2 separate regions of the Homo sapiens genome follow, and region 1 is linked to region 2. A link means that fine-mapping ties the variant in region 2 to the expression of a gene that starts in the linked region. Tissue or cell type: whole blood. Region 2 holds a variant in brackets; the other region holds the start of a gene. All regions are shown on one strand. Distances are from middle to middle.

Evidence for each region. PIP is the estimated chance that this variant, and not a neighbour inherited with it, causes the effect.
Region 1: XPOT starts here. The variant in region 2 is fine-mapped to the expression of XPOT in whole blood (TOPMed, PIP above 0.99).

The regions. Positions count from the first base shown.
Region 1 is chr12:64,399,755-64,407,854 of GRCh38, reverse strand. XPOT (exportin for tRNA) reads right to left here and starts at 3,463. Exons shown (of 25, transcript NM_007235.6): 1 at 3,051-3,463. RefSeq lists enhancers at 1,865-2,741, 3,839-3,888 and silencers at 2,849-2,958, 3,289-3,448.
Region 2 is chr12:64,499,103-64,507,201 of GRCh38, reverse strand. TBK1 (TANK binding kinase 1) reads right to left here. Exons shown (of 21, transcript NM_013254.4): 21 at 5,088-5,872. The coding sequence ends at 5,821. It overlaps LOC105369803 (a long non-coding RNA gene), which reads left to right. Exons shown (of 4, transcript NR_188079.1): 4 at 1-1,086. It also overlaps a transcript of RASSF3 not described here. Among named protein-coding and RNA genes, the nearest start is that of TBK1, 51 kb to the right of the region's middle. The variant G/C (reference allele first, on the strand shown) is at 3,910.

The sequences.
Region 1 (8,100 bases), 99 kb after region 2:
GGTTCATAACGTACTTGCAGACTTCAAGGCAGTGTAACTCCCTACTGCCCTCAGATTACGATCCAAACACTTTTGAATAACTCCTCACTATTCTGCACACCAGGTCAGCAAGGCCAGTGCTAGTGAACCATATGGCAGTTCTCCAGTGGTATTCTACCTTTCATCTTTGCACACTGCTCTTTCTTCTTGTTAGTAGGTTAACCCCTGCTGTCCTTTGAAATTCAACTTAGAAGCCATCTCTTTCAAGAACACTTCTTTGACCTCTATTGTCCAACTCTCCCAAATTGGATTACATGCCCCATCCTAAGCACTGCTATGCTGTCACTGCCAGCTTACTAGTTTTCTCTCATTAATCTTTTTTTTTTTTTTTTGAGACAGTCTCACTCTGTTGCCCAGGGTGGAGTGCAGTGACATGATCTCGGCTCACTGCAGCCTCTGGCTCCTGGGTTCAAGTGATTCTTCTGCCTCAGCCTCCCAAATAGCTGAGATTACAGGGGTGAGCCACCACACCCGGCTAATTTTTGTATTTTTTAGTAGAGATGGGGTTTCACCATGTTGCCCAGGCTGGTCTCGAACCCCTAATCTCAGGTGATCTGCCAGACTCGGCCTCCCAAAGTGCTGGGATTACAGGTGTGAGCCACCCGGCCATTTCTCACAATCTTAAAGGGCAAGGACTGTCTTGACTATCCATCACTATGTCCCTAGGACATAGTAGAGCATAGGTTTTGGATTTCAAAGACCTGGGTTTGTATCCCCATCTTGTCATTTTTTAATTGGGGCCACTTGGACAACTTACAAAACCTGAGAGAACCCTTTCTATGACATGGGAAAAAGACCATATGCCTCATAAAGTTGTAAAGGCTTCAAAGAGATAAGGTATGCAGAGCATGGCTGGCACATAGTGAGCCCTCAATACGTTGTTTATAGTCAGAGGTAGGAACATGTGGAATGGAAACGACTTGGGGCATTCTTATACCAGATCAGCATTTTTAAAAGACAGAAAAACACAAAGAAAGGCACTGGTTCCCTTCGCCCCCTAAATGTTAAGAAAATCTGATGTCCATTCCCCTGAAAAATGCCCACAGAGAGAAAAAACGATTTCGGAGTTTCTAAGAATCCCTGATTGAGAAGTCCAATAAAAGCTTCCTTGAATTTGCTATGGCTTTTTAAAAAAATGCTGGCCAGGCAGGGTGGCTCACGCCTATAATCCCAGCACTAAGGAAGGCCGAGGGGAGGGGGGCGCAGATCAACTGAGGTCGGGAGTTCGAGACCAGCCTGACCAACATGGAGAAACCCCGTCTCTACTAAAAATACAAAAATTAGCCGGGTGTGGTGGCACATGCCTGCAATCCCAGCTATTCGGGAGGCTGAGGCAGGAGAATCGCTTGAACCCGGGAGGCGGAGGTTGCAGTGAGCTGAGATGGCGCCACCGCACTCCAGCCTGGTCAACGAGAGCGAAACTCCATCTAAAAAAAATTGCTGGCTGGGCACGGTGGCTCACGCCTGTAATCCCAGCATTTTGGGAGGCCGAGGTGGGCGGATCACGAGGTCAGGAGTTCGAGACCAGCCTGACCAACACGGTGAAACGCCGTCTCTACTAAAAATACAAAAATTAGCTGGGCATGGTGGCCTGCGCCTGTAATCCCAGCTACCCAGGAGGCTGAGGCAGAAGACTCGCATGAACCCGGGAGGGGGAGGTTGCAGTGAGCGGAGATCGTGTCATTGCACTCCCGCCTGGGCGACAGAGTGAGACACTGTGTCAAAAAAAAGAAAAAGTGCTTAAGCTTGGTCAAGTCACTCTGAAGCTATCGGGAGAAAAATGAAGTGGCCCTAAGGAAAACATAGCCAATAAACCCAAGGAAACAAACTAGTTAACAGTTGTCACTACAGAAAGAATCCCCCACATAGAAGGCATTTGGACGATCAATATGCAGTGGAAGGCCGGGCGCGGTGGCTCACGCCTGTAATCCCAGCACTTTGGGAGGCTGAGGCGGGCGGATCGCGAGGTCAAGAGATCGAGACCATCCTGGCTAACACGGTGAAACTCCATCTCTACGAAAAATACAAAAAGTAGCCAGGTGTGGCGGGGCGCACCTGTAATAGAGCTACTCGGGAGGCTGAGGCTGCAGAATCACTTGAACCTGGGAGGCAGAGGTTGCAGTGAGCCGAGATGGCACCACTGCACTGCAGCCTGGGCGACCGAGCGAGACTCCGTCTCAAAACAACAACAACAAAACCCCAAAAAATGTTTCAATACGGTAAACAATTATGCATCTTGCAAAGGTTCTTGGGGGAAGGCAAGCAACATACTTAAAATATTAAGCCTTAACTTTTCCTGGATAGCCATTAAGAATCAAACAATTTGGAAAAATTCCTCTACACCTACTGAAGACTGTTTCAAATACTACGACTGAATCTTTCCAGCCTTTTAACACCACGCTGACAAGTCGGTTTAATAAAACGTAACTCTCCCCCAACCCCCGCCCGCCACAACTAATTAGCACTTTCAAAAAGTACTCGTTTTTCTGGTTACAGGGAAACCTCATGCTTCTCTAGTCCTGCAGGATGGTGAGGAAGGTTTGAGAAGAAATGGAGCGTCCGTGCTGGCCAATTACTGCACAGAAATAACACTTTTCCTTTTTGTCCAGGGGTGGGGGAAGAATCAAGTTTGAGGTCTCCACAGTTGATAACGCTACAACGATGACTAACGGGCTTCGGAACCACAGGCGATGCCGACCCTCCTCTGCTAGCCTTGCTCCCATCCCTCCCCCGATCCCTCCCCTAAAGGAAGCCTCGTGGCAATTCGGGTGATGAAACACCAAGCAACCGCCGGCCACGCACTCGGGACGCGCTCCTCGGCGGCGGCCCCGGCTCGTACCCACCCCCACCCGGTCCGCCCAGCCAGGGGGTGCACCGCCATAGAGGGTCCCAAGCCTGCACCCTCCCTGGCGTCGGGACTCCCCCGGGCCGGTCCGCCCCGGCCAACTTCCTCGAAGCCTCACGCGGACCAAACCTGGTCCCGGTCCCGCTGCCCCCGAGCCCCGAGTCACCTTCCCTATCACTCCATCCCGCCTCCCAGCCTGCACTCCAGATGGTCAGCCAGCGGAGCGGAGCGGCGCGGCACGCAGAGAGCTGGGAGAGCGGCCCTCGTCCTTGTCGCCGTAGTCCTCCGCCACGGCCGCAGCTACAACGCCAGAGACGGTGCTGGCCGGGACCGCGCGCCTCTAGTCGCTCTGCGTCCCCTGGCACCTTCTCTTGCGTGGCGCCGGGCAGGCAGGCAGGCAGGCAAGCAAGCAAGCAAGCAAGCGGGCGGGGTCGGCGCCCCAGGAAGGGAAAGAGCGCGAGGGCCGGCTAACGCCGCCGCCGCCGCCGCAGCCGCCGCCGCCGCTGAGTCAGCGCGAAGCGCGCTCCCCGCGTCGGTGCCGCGCGGGCGGGCGCCGGCGCCAGCAGTCTCTTGGAGAGTGCGGGCGGCAGCCCGCGGGCTGACGCCGGAGGCCTACAACTCCCAGCATGCAGGGAGCGGCCGGCGCTTCCGGGCGGCGAGGCGCACACGCGCTCCCTGGCGCTCGCCGGAAGGCGTGGTCACCGGGGCTTGAGGTGCATGCCGGGATGAGGCATCCGGCCCAGGAGTCCCTACCCAGCTCCTAAATCCCCGGCTGTGTCTGCGTGGTGTCAGAGCTCAAGCGTCAGGTTCGCCCCGAGCATTCCACAAAGGGCTTCTAGTAGTTGAGAGTACGGATTCACGAATCAGGATGACGTGGTTCTAACCACGTGTGAGTCAATTTAATTGCTTGTCTACGGCCCCAAGTGTCCCGAGTACAGCAGTGTAAAGCTCTGATGAGTGCTGACAGGTTTTCAAAATTAATTAATTAATTTATTTATTTATTCTTTGAGACGGAGTCTCGCTCTGTCGCCCAGGATGGGGTGCAATGGCGAGATCTTGGCTCACTGCAACCTCCGCCTCCGGGGTTCAAGCAGTTCTCCTGCATCAGCCTCCTGAGTAGCTGGGATGACAGGCGCGCGCCACCATACCCAGCTAATTTTTGTATTTTTCGTAGAGACAGGGTTGCACCATGTTGGACAGGCTGATCTCGAACTCCTGACCTCAAGTGATCACCTGCCTCGGCCTCCCAAAGTACTGGGATTACAGGCGTGAGCCACGGTGTCCGGTCCAAAATTTATTTTAAACAGACTAAAATTTTGTCCATGAAAAGAAGGAGAGCATTCTTAGGAAGTCCTACTCACGGGATCTTTCGATGCTACTAAATGTCACTTCATTTATTTGGTCACAGATTTATTAATTTATTAATGCAACATAGAGGCAGTGTAGGCTTAGGCTGCCTCGACTTGACTGCCACTCCGCCTCCTCACTAGTTGACCTCAGGCACTTTACTTTAGTCTATCCATGCTTCAGTTTACTCGTATGTAAAATGGGGATTGTTAATAGTACCGACCTCAAAGGGTTTCTGTGAGGTTTGAGTTAATACATGTGTTTGACACACAATGTGCTCAATATTTACATTTCATTGTTGATTATTCAATGTGTACTAAATACAGACTAGGTTGCTGCCACAGACTACAAACAAAACTTGGAGAGGGAGGAATGGTAAGAGCATAGAATAAAACTAATGTTTTAACAGCTACCTTTATTTAGCTGTCCAAGACACTACACCAGGCATTTCCTATATAAAATACCTTGAATCACTCTTGCATCATGTTTCTAATTTATGTGTTTAAAATGTCAGGCTAGTGGCTACAAGATGTCGCTAAAGGAGAACTGGGTTTTAATTTTTTCTTGTTTTTAGAGAAAGGGTCTCGCTCTGTTACCCAGTCTGGAGTAGAGTGGTCATAGCTCACTGCAGCCTTGACCTCCTGGGCTCAAGCAATCCTCCTGCCTCAGCCGCCCAAGGAGCTGGGACTACGGGTGCATACCATCATACCTGGCTATTTTTGTTTGTTTTTGTAGAGATGGGGACTTGCTCTGTTGCCCAGGCTGATCTCTAACTCCCAGGCTCAAATGAACCTCCCACCTCAGCTTCCCAAAGTGTTGGAATTACGAGTGTGAGTCCCTGTGTCAGGCCTTAATTTTCTTCACGCTGCTCTCAGTTGGCTTCCCAACGAAATAGGTTCTTTGTTGTTCTGGCATACAAATTTTCTTTTGATTGTAATCCTTGCATGCATTATGTTTCTACTATTCAAATTATTAATTATTCAAATTAATTATAAACAAGAAGTATCTCTTGTTTTACTTCTGAGAAAACCAAAGTCATGGTATTCTCAAGACTAGAGATAATTCAACAAAGCCTGTGAATCTCCCTCATTTGGAATCTCTCTGGGCCCAATCTGTTTTCCACTGCTAGGGCGCTGCTGCTAAAGCTATATCATATGAAACCACCCTCCCTAAAAGCTCAGGGACCATCTCCAAATAGGAGGGCGAGTGAAACTGTAAGAGCTGGATTGATGGGTGGAATCTGGAAGCTAAAGTAACTCCATCTTTGGTACTAATCTGCCATGTTGGTTTCTGATTAACCCTGTTCCCGGAAGGCCTTTAAGATTTCAAGTTGTGTGAGAGCACATACTGTAAATTCTGCCCTTACGTCAAAACAGCCTTGATGTTATTGTACTTCAGTTGTCTACACATCCTGACGTGGTTTGGCTGTGTCTCCACCCAAATCTCATCTTGAATTGTAATTCCCATAATCCCCTCATGTCATGGGCGGGATCAGGTGGAGATAATTGAATCATGGGGTTGGTTTCCCCCACCCTGTTCTCGTAATAGTGAGTTTTCATGAGATCTGATGGTTTTATAAGGGGCTTCCCCCTTTGCTGGGCACTCATTCTTCTCTCCCCTGCCACCATGTGAAGAATGATGTGTTTGCTTCCCCTTCTGCCATGATTGTAAGTTTCCTGAGGCCTCCTCAGCCCTGAGGTACTGTGAGTCAATTAAATCTCTTTCCTTTATAAATTACCCAGTCCCAGGCATTCCTTTATAGCAGTGTGAGAACAGACATAATACACATCCCTTCTGAATTACATATACCCTTTCCATATGGGGGTTAATGGTGAGGGGATCCACCATCTTGTTTCACTGCTGCTGGAGACACAGGCATGGCTTTTTTCACAAGTTGCTATGAATGTTATTTCTAAGAAAAAAAATCTCAGGCTAGGATTTCTGCCCTACCTATTTCAGTATATCTTTCGAGTCTAGCACAGTGCCAGCCTGCTAGTTTCAACTCAATAACTGAATCATTGCATGAATTCTTATATTAGCTGTGATGATCAACTGTGGAGTATGAAGGCCCAATACTAATCTTGGGCTGAGTGCCTCTGCAATCTGTATGTTCAGCATATTCCAGGCCTCATCCTAAAGAATATGGCAATTCAATCTATCGTATTATAGATGTCTTTACTTGCTGTTTTGTTTGTAAATTCATTTTATGGCTACTTCTTATGTTGAATGTTATACAAAGCCTATCTTCAGTTTATCTACAGTTTATCTACTAACATTAGCTCTTTCGTTTATGGTAGTTGAAATACCTAGAATTGTAGAAATCTCTTTCAACTTTGTAAACTCATATTATTTCAGAACAAATAAAGAGGCTAGGCGCGGTGGCTCATGCCTGTAATCCCGGCACTTTGGGAGGCTGAGGCAGATGGATCACAAGGTCAAGAGATCGAGACCAGCCTGGCCAACACAGTAAAATCACGTCTCTACTAAAAATACAAAAAAAAAATTAGCCGGGCATGGTGGCACATGCCTGTAGTCCCAGTTACTTGGGAAGCTGAGGCAGGAGAATTGCATGAACCTGGGAGGTTGCAGTGAGCCGAGATTGCGCCACTGCACTCCAGCTTGGGCAACACAGTGAGACTCCATCTCAAAAAAAAAAAGCCGGGTGTGGTGATGCATGCCTGTAATCCCAGCACCTTGGGAGGCCGAGATGGGTGGTTCAGGAGGTCAGGAGTTCAAGACCAGCTTGGCCAACATAGTGAAACCCTGCCTCTACTAAAAATACAAAAATTAGCAGGACGTGGTGGCACATGCCTGTAGTCCCAGCTACTCGGGAGGCTGAGGCAGGAGAATTGCTTGAACCGGGAGGTGGAGTTGCAGTGAGCTGAGATCGCACCACTGCACTCCAGCTTGGGCAACAGAGTGAGACTTCATCTCAACAACCACAACAACAACAACAACAAAAAGAACAAATAAAGAAGCACTTGGTAGAATCCAACTGAAGAGGACCTAAGAGAGGTATTACATTTGACCATTCCATATTCTGCCTCCTCCGTCCATGAAGGGATGGGCAGTTTCTCATCTCAGATGAAAATGTTAGTCATCAACATGTTGACAAATAACACTATCATTTTGTAACTGCCCAAAAGGCTCCTTTTGTAACTGCCCAATAGGTTCCCTGCTGCCTAGACAGACCCAATTTATCAAGATAGGGGAATCTCAATAGAGAAAGAGTAATTCACATAGAGCTCCCTGTATGGGAGACTGAGTTTTATTATTATTCAAATCAGTCTCCCTGAGCATTCAGGGATCAGAGTGTTTAAGGCTGATTTGATGGATGAGGGAAGGTCAGTGAATTGAGAGTGCTGATTGGTTGGATCAGAGATGAAATCAGAGAGAGTTGAAGCTGTCCTCCTGCGCACTGAGTCAGTTCCTGGGTGGCGGCCACAAGATCAGATGACCCAGTTTTTTGATCTGAGTGGTGCCAGCTGATCTATCAAGTACAGGGTTTGCAAAATATCTCAAGCACTGATCGTAGGTTTTACAATAGTGGTGTTATCCCCAGGAACAATTCGGGGAGGATCAGAATCTTGTAGCCTCCAGCTGCATGATTTCTAAACAATAATTTCTAATCTTATGGCTAATTTGTTAGTCCTACAAAGGTAGTCTAGTCCCCAGGTAAGAAGGGTGTTTTGGGAAGAGGCTGTTATTGTCTTTGTTTTAACTATAAACTCTAAACTAAGATCCTTCCAAAGTTAGTTCAGCCTATGCCCAGGAATGAACAAGGACAGCTTGGAGTTTAGAAGCAAAATGCAGTTGGTCAGATCAGATCTCTTTCACTGTCTTGGTTATAATTTTGTAATGGTAGTTTC
Region 2 (8,099 bases):
AGAACCAGGAGTGTTCCAGAATGACTCGCTACAGAGAGCATGGATGAGGAGCACAGTAACACCCACATATGACACTTTAGCTGTGAACTGCCTTTCAGCCAATATGTCTGGGGACCACCTGTTAGCCCTAAATCCCCTTCCTCTGTCATTCTTTTGGCTTGTCCTTTAGACCTTGGCCCTCATAACTAGAAACTGTATTAATAGATGTTCTTTCTAAAGAAAGAGTTTTAAGCTTTCTTAAGAGAAGCTCTAACCTAATGCAACACTTGGTAATTTTCAAGCATGGACCTCCTGACCTCGTTCATAAAAACACAATTTTTTCATAGAGGAGTGAAAAAAAACAGGATCCACTAACTCAACTTCCAACAGAATTGTCAGTGGTAATTTGCAGGACTTAGTGGTGATGGACAAGCAATCTCCTAAAGCCATAGCCTTGATCCCATTTGTTTTGTGCATTTTTACTGGAAAAATGAAACCTATTTGAAACTTTAGCAGGAATTTATCCCAGAAAAAAAAAAATTAGTTCTTATGAGTCAAAAAATGTGTAAAAGGGCCAGGCACAGGGGCTCACACCTGTAATCCCAGCACTTTGGGAGGCTGAGGTGGGAGGATTGCTTGAGCCCAGGAGTTCAAGACCAGCCGAGCCAACAAAGCGAAATGCTGTCTCTAGAAAAAGGAAAAAAAAAGCTGGGCATGGTGGCACGTACCTATAGTCCCAGCTACTCAGGAGGCTGAGGTGGGAGGACTGCTAGAATCCAGAAGATGGAAGCTGCAGTGAGCTATGATAGCACTACTGCACTCCAGCCTGGGTGACAGAGCAAGACTCTTCAAAAAAAAAAAAAAGATGCAAAAGACCATTTTCCCCCAGGGTCCTATTTTGATCTTTAACCATTTATTGAACAATTCTCTAGAACTTCTAACATTGTAACATTACTGAATCCATTTCAGCATTTCAGCAGACATCAATGCCTAGTTGTCTACCACGCAGCTTGTACTGAGGTTCCCCATCATCACTCCTAAGACTATGTCTAACAGTTGGTCCTTGTGCATTCTGTTTATGTCAAAAGAAATAAACTTATTCATATATTCATTTAGGAGCTAAGTCGATTAAACAGCCTGATGTAATATTTGGGCTTGCTTTTTATATGCCACAGCAAATTTTTGGAGCTGATTTACTCTCTAAAGAGAAACAACGGATATTATTATATTGCCAGTTTTTATTTCCAGATCAGATGTTTTTGTTTCCTATTCCATTTTCAGTATTTCTTAGGAATTTGGACTTTGATTCTTCTTACAAGTGACAAGTGGGGAGCAAGTCTAACTAAAACAACAGTGTAAGAGTTTTTCAGGTCTTCTTAAAAGTGGGATGTGGGGTGGAGAATCCAGCTAAAATAGTAAAGATTTCTTTCAATGTTTTTCCCTTCAACTATGTGTGTCTGCCCCAGCACTTCTCAGTTTCAAAAATTTGTTTGAGTAATTATAAATTTTCTGCAGCACTTCCTCAAAGACAAAGCACAACATATAAAACACATCGGAGTGAGGTGAAATTAGAAACAAAAGACTAGCTCTTGGCCGGGTGCGGTGGCTCATGCCTGTAATCCCAGCACTTTGGGAGGCTGAGGCAGGCGGATAACCTGAGGTCAGGAGTTTGAGACCAGCCTGACCAACATGGTGAAACCCCGTCTCTAATAAAAATACAAAAATTAGCCGGGCATGCTGGTGGGCATCTGTAATTTCAGTTACTTGGGAGGCTGAGGCAGGAGAATCACTTGAACCTGGGAGGTGGAGGTTGCAGTGAGCTGAGACTGCGCCACTGCACTCCAGCCTGGGCAACAAGAGTGAAACTCCATCTCAAAAAAAAAAAAAAAAAAAAAAAAAAAAAGACTAGCCCTGGTGGTGGCTGTTCTGAAAGGGGAATAAATTGTTGACATTTCAGTTGAGAGTCCTTATTCCTACTGATAGTCCCTTTCTTAATTCTAAACAATGTATCTCTTACTTTTAACACAGACCACCACAAAAGGTAAACACTATTGCAAAAAACAAAAACCAAAGAAAAACAATCTAAACCAAAACAATCATAAAAAGTTCAGGATTATTGTAATTTTTTTCTGGATAATTTATGGATAAAGACACTACATTTGTAAAGAAATGTTGATTTTTTTTAATATCTAAGAAGCATTTCTTTTGACATGGTATAATCAGGTCTATAAGCCAATAATTTGGTAACCTCCAAAATAATGGCAGCTGGATTTTTTTTTTTTTTTGAGATGGAGTCTCACTCCGTTGCCCAGGCGCGATCTCAGCTCACTGCAACCTCCGCCTCCTGGGTTCAAGTGATTCTCCTGCCTCAGCCTCCCAAGTAGCTGGGACTACAGGTGCATGCCACTACACCCAGCTAATTATTTATTTATTTTTATTATTATTTTTTTTTTGAGATGGAGTCTTGCTGTGTTGACAGGCTGGAGTGCGGTTGGCATAATCTCACCTCACTGCAACTCTGCCTCCCAGGTTCAAGCAATTCTCCTGCCTCAGCCTCCCAAGTAGCTGGGACTACAGGTGCATACCACCACGCCCGGCTAATTTTTGTATTTTTAGTAGAGAAGGGGTTTCACCATGTTGGTCAGGATGGTCTTGATCTGTTGACCTCGTGATCCACCTGCCTCAGCCTCCCAAAGTGCTGGGATTACAGGCGTGAGCCACTGCGCTCAGCCTAATTTTTTATTTTTAGTAGAGACGGGGTTTCACCATGTTGGCCAGGCTGGTCTCGAACTCCTGATCTCAGGTGATCGGCCCGCCTCAGCCTCCCAAAGTGCTAGGATTACAGGCATGAGCCACCGTGCCCCGCCGGCAGCTCGAATTTTAGGAGACTTACTTAATGGGATTATTTTTCCCATTTCTTTCCTAACCTTACATTCCTGTTTATTTACTTGAAGCTATCCCTTATTTTTTTATTTTTTATTTTTGAGACAAAGTCTCACTCTTGTTGCCCAGGCTGGAGTGCAGTGGCACAACCTTGGCTCACTGCAACCTCCGCCTCCCAGGTCCAAGCTTTTCTCTTGCCTCAGCCTCCCGAGTAGCTGGGATTACAGGCGCCTGCCACCATGCTCAGCTAATTTTTGTATTTTCAGTAGAGACAGGGTTTCACCATGTTGGCCAGGCTGGTCTTGAACTCCTGACCTCAGGTGATCCGCCCGCCTTGGCCTCCCAAAGTGCTGGGATTACAGGCGTGAGCCACCGCGCCCGGCCAAAGCTCTCTTTTGATATACTTTATATTCACATATTTCACTTTTATTTTTTCTGCTGTCAGTACTATAACTTGTTTTATGCTAAGAGTTACATCTACTAACGCTTCTATTTTTTTTTTTAATTTTTTGAGACAGGGTCTCTCTCTGCCACCCAGGCTGGCAATCATAGCTCACTGTAACCTTTAACTCCTGGACTGAAGCAGTCTTCGCAGCTCAGCCTCTGAGTAGCTGGGACTGTGGCACATGCCACCATGCCTGGCCAATTAAAAAAAAATTTTTTTTTTTTTTTTGTAGAGACAGGGCTCTTGCTATGTTGCCCAGGCTGGTCTAGAATTCCTGATCTCAAGTGATATCCCTGCCTCAGCCTCCCAAAGCGCTGAGATTACAGACATGAGCCATCACACCCATCTTCTATTTGTTATATATACTATTTTTATACCATTAATTGCTATCTTTTCAAAACATTATAATATTTTTAAAAAGCTACTAAAGTGAAGATACAACTTATTTTAAAGCTAATTTCATTTAAATAGTCACTGAACATTAGCAGACTGGTATCATGCATTTATTTATTTAAAATGTTTTGAAAAATAAATGTTTTGAATGAGGATGCATTTTTGAGGGTAAAATACTGAAAGCAAGAATGCTTCTCTTCCATGTCACT[G/C]TAAGGGGGAAATAAAAGAGTAAATCTCAAAAAATACTACTGTGGAATAGATATATTCCTATCAATACTATTAATAAAAATACAATCGCCACATAAAGGTTCTATTTATTGGTGTTGTTTGCTAGAGGTGCTGAAATAAAAACTAAATTGGCAAATATATCAAATAATCACATAATTTGAGTAAAATTTTACCTAATATTCAGTGATATAAGCTTTTAAACTATACAAGATACCCATATTAGACGGTCAAATGGAAAATTAAAATAAAGAGGGATTAAATACTTCCTTGCCCCACACACTCTCAAACTAAACAGGTAACTGACAGTGGATAACTGTATTATTTAAATAAAGGCATTCACCCTTGCATTTATTTGTTACGTGTACATATGACGCTTAAAATTCTCCACTACAATAATGCATCATAATCTCACTTAAGATCCTAATCATTTCTTAAAACTGATGAAGTTACTGATGTTCTTGGTAGACAAATTTATTTCTCTTTAGGATATGTTATTTTTATGATACGCGGGTTTTATGTAATCACACTTCACCAGTCTGAAAAGCCACAAACCAAAACCAAAAGAAAGAAAAGTCCTGTTGGATGAAATAATTTCTTGCTGAGCACAATCCCTTAGTCTAGAACTCTGAGTATATTTTTCAGAGAAAATGTTCCTTTTCGGCTGGGCGTGGTGACTCAACCCTCTAATCCCAGCACTTTGGGAAGCTGAGGCGGGCGGATCACTTGAGGCCAGGAATTTGAGACCAGCCTGACCAACATGGTGAAACCTCATCACTACTAAAAATACAAAAATTAGCCAGGCATGGTGGTGCACACCTGTAATCCCAGCTACTTGGGAGGCTGAGGCAGGAGAATTGCTTGAACCTCGGAGGCCGAGGTTGCAGTGAGCAGAGATCACACCACTGTACTCCAGCCTGAGCAACAGAGCGAGACTCTTGTCTCAAAAAAAAAAAAAAAAGGAAATGTTCCTTTTCAATTTGTATAATAGCCTAAGTATATGAAAGAACTTCATACTAAATTTAGAATTAGTGGGTTTAGAAGAGACAGAAAATTGTCCCTAGATCCAATATTCTGAGTAGTTTATGATTATCATCTATATTGTTACTTTCAAAAGATAACTTTTGTTTCACAAACTGGATACAAAGAAACACATGAACTCTTTACATTAAAATTGAGAAATTTATTTTTTTCCATGAAATAGTAAGCAGAATTAAAGAAATATACAGCTTAAAACAGTTGAAATGACCTTAGAATTTTAATGACAATTACACATTTATGGCCAAAGGAAAAAAATGAATAGTTTTTAATAATGAATTCACTTTAAAATGTTTGCTTAATAATTCATCTGAAATTACATGGATACAAGGATAACTGGGATCTGGGCACCTTGTAAAATAAAATAATGCCACTTTATCCTTCTCAAAAAAATTGTTATCCCAGTATAACAGTGGTGCGGTTCTGCTCCCCACTCACAGTAGCCACCGTTCTACCATTTACAAACGTGTCAAGTCAGTCTTCCTGATTTGTAAGGATGCCTATTTTGGTTCCACTTAAAAATATTTCCAGTAGGCGGTCAGAGAAAATAACTTATTTAGCCCCACTCAGAGTAGAGGATCAGTATGTCAACATATTGGTCGGTCATGGCTTTCTTCTCGTGATCACTGAGGTCAAATTTCCTCATATAATTATAAATGTTAAAAGATAAAATTACATCTTCACAGCAGCCAAAAATTTGTATATTTTTTATGTATTTACAATATTGTACATATTTACACGACCACATCAAATACTGAATTGTAGAAACAAGTGACTATCTATAAAGGCATTCATTTAATGCCCAAGCGTTATTTTCTTGTGCAAACGGAAACTTTTCTTAAACTTCTATTAGAAAGCTAAAGACAGTCAACGTTGCGAAGGCCACCATCCATGGTTAAAGAGCCAAACCTAAAACACACACACAAAGAAAAAAAGGTAATCTCAAAAGTTGCATTTATGTATAAAGGCCCCCAACCTTAAAATACTTTTCAGAGGAATAAATAGCTATTTATTTTTAAAGAGTTTAAGTAACTATGATTTGTTCTATTTCTTACTGGAACAGCATGGTATTATCATAAATACATGAAAAACCGATGTAATGATGTAATTAAGAAACTGTCAGTAAGAACTGGATAATTTCTTTCTGGTGGGGTGGGATTTATAAGCTAAGATAGAATTGGGGCCGGCGCAGTGGCTCACGCCTGTAATCCCAGCACTTTGGGAGGCCGAGGCAGGCAGATCACTTGAGGTCACAAGTTTGAGACCGGCCTGGCCAATATGGCAAAACTCCTTCTCTACTAAAAATACAAAAATTAGCTGGGTGTGGTAGCGTGTGCCTATAGTCCCAGCTACTCGGGAGGCTGAGGCAGGAGAATTGCTTGAACCCGGGAGGCAGAGGTTGCAGTGAGCCGAGATCATGCCACCGCACTCTAGCCTGGGTGACAGAGTGAGACTTTGTCTCAAAAAAAAAAAAAAAAAAAAAAAGATACCGAGTTGGGAGTGTGACATACCCAAAGGAAGTTGAGAAATGAGACCTTGCTAGAACACAATGTTATTTTGGGGAGCAGTGGGAAGTAAAGTTGGGTGAACAGGCTGGAACCAGGCTATTACACTCTTTGAATTGAAGTATAAATTTAGACTTGACTTTTTAGGTAACAGGAGTTTAGAAACTTTTGAGCCAAAGAAGTCATACGATTACATCAGTATTCTGAAAGATGATTTTGGCTGTAATACCCATGACAGATGGGAAGAGCTTGGGGTTAAGAAAAAAAATAGGTTATTACCATATATCACATATGAAAGGGAAAGGAGATCTGAATGAGGGTGACGAGGGGAAATATGGGAGCCAAACTTGTTGAGAGGGTATAAAGAAGATTAAGTGTCTAAAATAATTTATGTTTAAGGGAGTAGGAGAAAGGTGGTACCTTTGAACAGGATAAGGAGCAGAGAGAAAACTGAGTTGGGACAGATGATTTTAGATTCAAAAAAAAATTTGAAGTGATAGTGGGTTATCCACATGGAGACAGAGTAGTATAATACTCTGAACAAAATCTGGCTTCCATTACTAGTTTTGTCACTTAACATTTACGTTAAGATTATGCCATGTTATATCACCTATATATTGTCAAGAAACCTGCAAATAAAACACAGGAGGAACTGACTTACTAAATGTGGTTTAGGAAGTTGGGATTTTATTCCACAAGGCATAAGTAGTTAAATATAAAAGTTAAAAGCACATCTTTGGCTGGGCACGGTGGCTCACGCCTGTAGTCTCAGCACTCAGGGAGGCCGAGGCAGGTGGATCACGAGGTCAAGAGATTGAGACCATCCTGGCCAACATGGTGAAACCTTGTCTCCACTAAAAATACAAAAATTAGCTGGGCATGGTGGCGTGTGCCTGTAGTCCCAGTTACTCGGGAGGCTGAGGCAGGAGAAACGCTTGAACTCGGGAGGTGGAGGTTGCAGTGAGCCAAGATCGCGCCACTGCACTCCCGCCTGGCGACAAAGCGAGACTCCATCTCAAAAAAAAAAAAAAAAAAAAAAAGCACATCTTTATAGTCTCTTCTACTTGGTGATCTTTAAGCCTAAAAGGATTTAGCTAAAGTTCTGAAGAAACTGTAAACTGGATACTATAAAAGTTAGATAATTACTATAAACAAGGAAAATATTTTTTAAAGTTAACGAGTAACTCTCCCCAAAAATGAAAATTGAACAAACATATTAAACGATGTTTGACATCACTATAAACCACAGAAATATAAATTAAAATAAGATCTCGGTTTTTACTAAACAAATTGGCGAATGTTTAAAAGATGTTATACATTCAATGTTGCCAAATGCATAGGTTTTATCTGCTTAGGACTATAACATGCACCCTTTTAAAGAACAAAATTGGCCGGGTGCGGTGGCTCATGCCTGTAATCCCAGCACTTTGGGAGGCTGAGGCAAGTGGATCACCTGAGGTCAGGAGTTCAAGACCAGCATGGCCAACATGGTGAAACCCCAGCTCTACTAAAAATACAAAAAACTAGCTGGGTGTGGTGGTGGGCGCCTGTAATCCCAGCTACTCAGGAGGCTGAGGCAGGAGAATCACTTGAACCCGGGAGGCAGAGGTTACAGTGAGCTGAGATCACGC